Linked DNA regions of Homo sapiens: region 1 is linked to region 2. Evidence: fine-mapped expression QTL. Tissue or cell type: lymphoblastoid cells. Region 2 holds a variant in brackets; the other region holds the start of a gene. All regions are shown on one strand. Distances are from middle to middle.

What was found. PIP is the estimated chance that this variant, and not a neighbour inherited with it, causes the effect.
Region 1: TTLL5 starts here. The variant in region 2 is the best candidate, but not a certain one, in a credible set for the expression of TTLL5 in lymphoblastoid cells (GTEx, PIP 0.64).

What each region holds. Positions count from the first base shown.
Region 1 is chr14:75,659,984-75,662,745 of GRCh38, reverse strand. TTLL5 (tubulin tyrosine ligase like 5) reads right to left here and starts at 1,500. Exons shown (of 32, transcript NM_015072.5): 1 at 1,359-1,500. It overlaps ERG28 (ergosterol biosynthesis 28 homolog), which reads left to right and starts at 1,870. Exons shown (of 5, transcript NM_007176.4): 1 at 1,870-1,971. RefSeq lists an enhancer at 1,429-1,648 and a silencer at 1,759-1,808.
Region 2 is chr14:75,723,261-75,726,022 of GRCh38, reverse strand. The region is part of intron 12 of TTLL5 (tubulin tyrosine ligase like 5); the gene reads right to left. Among named protein-coding and RNA genes, the nearest start is that of TTLL5, 63 kb to the right of the region's middle. The variant C/T (reference allele first, on the strand shown) is at 1,400.

The DNA of each region.
Region 1 (2,762 bases), 63 kb after region 2:
CAGTTTGAGGCAGGTGACTGATTCCCTAAAACATATATTCCTTGCTAGACAAACCTGGCCTGGGTTAAAAATAAATAAATAAAAACTCAAGGTTTAAGACCCTTGCAGGCCGGGCAGGGTGGCTCACGCCTGTAATCCCAGTACTTTGGGAGGCCAAGGCGGGCGGATCACCTGAGGTCGGGAGTTCGAGACCAGCCTGACTAACATGGAGAAACCCCGTCTTTACTAAAAAAAAAAAAAAAAAATACAAAAAATTAGCCGGGTGTGCTGGCTCATGCCTGTAATCCCAGCTACTCGGGAGGCTGAGGGAGGAGAATCGCTTGAACCCGGGAGGCGGAGGTTGCGGTGAGCCAAGATCGCGCCATTGCACTCCAGCCTGGGCAACAAGAGTGAACTCCGTCTCAAAAAAAAAAAAACAACAAAAAACCCCTGCCAACATTTATTTAGACTCTATGACAAGCACGCTGACAAGATGCCATCATGTTTCCAGTAAAATAAATTCAACAATGAACCGAAAGATGAATATATTCTCTTGAATCAAAGGTCCATATAAATAGGTGGGGGAGGGGAGGAATGCCCTTCCACTCTTAAAAATTATTCTTCCTAAAAATCACAAAGTTTGGTACGACTCTCAAATAGACGATGAAATTAGGAAATTTCCAACACTGCATTTCTAACTTAAAATATTTTTTCTAAAGTAAAAAAGTACATGTTCGTTGTGTGTGTCAGAAGAAGAAATAGGAACTACAAATAAAAGAAACATGTTTAAATGACCATAATCCCAAATTACTCAGCGATAATTACTTGCTGTCAATCCTTCTTAACTTTTCCATGCATTCATAAATACGATGAGACTGTAAATAAGACAAAAAAAAAACAGACCCCGATAATGATCAAAGATCTTCGGCGCAATAGGCAATGTCTAACAACTTCAATGGCTTTCTTCAGGGGATTCTCAACGGGATTTCTTGATCTTTCCCAAAATGCTGGGAAGCCCTTTAAGTTTAAACAAACAAAACCTCCAAACGGGAAGGGATGCCAACCTCTCCTAGGCTGCCTGCAGAGCGGGGAGAAACAGGTCTATCGGAAGAAGAGTAGAGATACTCACCTAAGGAGACTCCTCTCCCGAAAGGAATCTGCTTCTCAGCCCCACCCCCAGCTCACCCCAATCCCACGTAGGTCCGCAGATGCTCCCCCCGGGAAGGACGGGACGACCCCGCAGCCGCGATTCAACGCGGCGCGCCCGGAAGCCAACAGCTACTCCCGGGCTCTGAGCGGGAAGTCCTGCTGCAGGCGCCAGCCCGGACCCGGGAATGCTCCTCCCTAGGGTAGGGAAGCGCGCGGGCGCAGGCGTTTACCTGTCTCATCTTCCCATGGTTCGGGGCGAGCAGGCGTGGACCGCGCTCTGCGCCTACCTCCCTCCTCCTTCCCCAGGAAGGCTCAGGGCAGCCGCCGACGGCTGCTTCCCCGGTTACTACAACAACCAACAAGCAACCGCCCGCTCGGAGCCACTGCGCAGGCGCTCATAACGCTCAGCTGCGGACGCGGGCGAATGTCGTCACCGCCGCGCAGCGCGGGCGCAGAGCCCTGCCCTCAGCTGAAGGGAGTCTTCTTTTTTTTTTTTTTTTCCGCTGTTTTTTTCTCCGCCCCTAAGAGGTTGACTCCAAACCCGGAGTTCCGCTAGGTCCAACAGGAGGGCTTACGGCGTGAGCGGCGTACCTGGGGAGAGGCTTAGGCAGCGGCAACCGCTGATTGGCAGTAAAGGGGTTCACTCCCCATCTCCTGCTCGGGCGAAACCGGGACAGCCAATCAGAGAGAGTACTGACGGAAACGGCCCAATCCTGGAGCAGGGCTGAGGGAGGGGGCGGGGACAAATGGCTCAGGTGGACTCCGGGCTGGAGCTGTCCTGGGGGAGCTTGTTTGCGGCAGCGGCTGCTGCTGCCACTGCTGTGCTGGGGGCCCGGTCGCCAGGTAAGGAGAATATGGGGGAGAAGAGGGATGTAGGTGTCTGTGTTGCTTCTGATTGAGAGGATCCGGAGAGTCTGGAAAAATGGAGGTGGGATGGAAGGAAGATAACTGGAAGGCAACCTTTTGGGGGGAAAAGGTTTCGAGAGGCGATGACAAGGGGGAGCTAGGAAGATGGAGAAGGCTTGGTGAATTCAAGGAACGAAGGAATGGATGAGCGAATGAGCAGCCACTATGAGCCTAGCACTGTACAAAGAGCCTTCACTTTTTGTCATATAATTCTTACAATAGCCCTTCGGGTTGATATTTCTATCTCCATTTTGCAGATGAGGAAACCGAGACTGAAAAGTGTAAATGACTTACCCAGGGTCACACAGCTACTAAGTGGTAGGGCCAGGATAAGAATCCCTTTCTCCTGATTAAGTTTTAACAGCACACCTATGCTGGGCTGGGCTTGGCTGGGCTGGGCCAGGGCCAGGACAAAATTTGGAAATAGATGTTGTATACACTCTAAGAGGCCCTTAAGCTTTAGGGAAATTAGGTTGAGAAATTGGCAGAGCAATTCAGAAGTGCTCAGGCTCTGTCCTCATCAGCTATCTGTTGGGATTTCTAACAGATAACACTTCTGTGAAATGGAAGGCATACTTGTGCAGAAAAGTGGAGAGGTGCATCCATGCAGCTTTTCTAAACCCCGGAGGAGTCTCCTCTTGAGAGAGAGTGAGAAAATAAAGAGGATGGGTGGATCTTGGCCCAAATGATAATGGCCTGTGATGTCCAGTAGACCCTCAGTCTCTCTG
Region 2 (2,762 bases):
AAATGCTATTGTATGAAGGAAATTCTTTTTACCTTGGCTTTGGATTCAAATTGAAAAAGCTAAAGAGGAAGTCTTTATATGGGGTCCAGAAGGAGAATTTTGGAAAAAAGCAGACCCACAAGAAAATGAAAAGAAAATGCCCACAGCCAATTGGTTAACTAGTCCAAGAAATCAATATGCTATCTGGTTACCAGATGTAAAGGTAGATTTGAAAGGAGTATTTAGGACTGGGTATGCTTAACTAGAGCAAAAGGAGTGTCCTTTTCAGGCCTGATCTGCTAGAAAGGATGATATCATTTTTCCTGAGTATCTAGTTACGGGAGAGCAGAGGGAGAATCCAGGATATGGGGCATGCCAAAAGTGGCCGGACTCATAAGGACATGTCTTTATGTGGGTGGAGAAAGAGCCAGAGAGAACTGGCTCCCAAATTTGGCTTTGCCATTTATTAGCTGCATGACCTAGGACAACTTATTTAACCTTTCTGAATCTTTTTTCCATGTCTATAAAACACAGATAATACCAACCAAAATTGTCGAAGACTAAAAAGAAATAACCAGTGAAACCAAATTAAAGGAAATAACCAATGTTTGCTTGATAAACAGTAGATACTTCCTACATAAGTTTCTTCTGTAGTAAACTTCCTTTCCCATCTAAACAGGAGCATATGATAAACCAAAAAAGGAGATTATCTCAAAAAGTGAAGAGATTGATGACTCTCATTATTTTTCTGTGGGTGGCCAAGTAGTTTACATTGTTGGAGAATGTACACTGCCTGCTTTCATTCCTCCAACAATTATTTATGGACATCCTCCCTATAAGAACCTCAGGTTACCCTGTGAAATGGTCAAGAATGGCAGCAACAGAAAACCAAACCAGGTATCGTCAACACAGAGGTGTACTGGGCATGGCTGGTGCGGAGCAAACACGTCACTGGGCTCTGATCAGAACAAGTCCAGGCTGATCAGTTCTACAAGTGGCTCCACAACTTGTCCCCATGATCCCAGGCCTGGGTCACAACCCATGACTTCAGCCATGCTAATACACAGAGATAAACCCACTGTCAGCAGCAACATCTTTAAAGAGCAGCGAACATCCTGTTGTTTTTGGCTGTTTTTCTTCAACTGATCCAAAAGCTATTCTCATAGCCAGTTGTATCTCACAATGCCAATTTCCTAAGCATATTTAAAGGATTGCTGTTTAAGCATATTATTTCACATGGTACCATATTTTCACGATCTTGGAAGGCAGTAAAAATTAGATTGTAAAAAATCTGTCTTATTGAGGGAGGCATAAAAAATTCTATAAATCAAAAGTCTTATGATCAAGATTATCTGATTGCCAAAACCCATCTTCTGAAGCCCCATAGATACAAGCTGAGTCATTTTGACCTGAGTTATTT[C/T]ACTCACTAACTCTAGAACCTGGAACATAGAGTTCATTTCTCAGGGTTTCAATTTCTATATCTGAACTAATTATTCTCTAAGGTCCTTGCCAGATGTGCAAATCTAGGAAAAAGCATTAAATGACAAAGTTTCGGGTAGTTTGTATAGGTTCTCAAGTCTACATTTAAACACTAATAGTGCAATGGAGGTATATATATATCTATATCTGTATCTCATCCTACATAAAATTTGGTTTGAGAGGAACAAACTTGATGGTAATACACTGCCGAAAGGCTAACCTATGACTTGCCCACAGCAGGAACTGAAGAAAAATTAAATGTATAAATAAATAGGATGGGATATTGAAGATACCTGGAAACATAGTTGAACATTACAGGTGGTAGGATGGGAAAGAAATCATAGGATACAAACACTGAGATAGTAAGGGAATGCCCCTGGCAGAGATCCATAAGATGGAAGGACAGGAACAACCACCAAAAGAATATAGCGAACCCCATGTCTGGTCTGTTGGTTTCCCCTAAAAGCACCAATGCTCTGTTTGAGCCAAAATCTTCTGGGAAGCTTTCAATTCCTGTTTACTCTAAAATAAATGGAAAAAAAAAAAAACAACTAGCTTATTCCTTGTGACTTAAACCCCAGGGGAAGTTAGGAGTCAGTGGGAGGCAGAGACTCATACAAATATACACACGTATACAAAATCATATCTGATGGGATGAGGTTAATGAAGCACACAAAATCCCAGGGCTGACAGGAAGTGGAATTAGAACCACAAAAGCCAAGAAGATAGTCAACAACTTAAAAAACTCCAGATGCACTCAGTTTATTAAAACTGAACACAAGTAGGGAGGAAGAAAGGAGACCCATGGCTGATGAAATGGACTTAAGGGGTATTTCACTGAGTCAGAGAAAGTCACAGCTTCTTCCACGTCGGAACATTCTATTGCCAATAAGTTCAATAATGAAGCTCCCAAGCTTCCAAAAGGCAATCAAGTTATAAAACAAACAAACAAACAAACAAAAGGAAACATTCAGAAAAGGTTTTATAATTATTTAGAACAAAGATTTTTACAGCAAGGGATATCAGAAATTTACCCTCATATAAGAGCCAAGTAGATGTAGAAAAATAAACCTTTATTTATTATTTAAATCTAATGAGGTTTTGGAAGTTGGAGTTACGCTCCTAGTCCCAACCCCTCATCCCCATCTTCAAACAGTCTGCAATAATTCTAAGAGTTCTAGGCCATTACCAAACCAGATCCATTGGGAAGTCTACTGTCAGGCCACCAAAAAGCAATTAAAGCAAGTGCCAATCATTCATTCAAGAAACATTTCCTGAACATTCTCTAAGAGCAAAAGACGCTG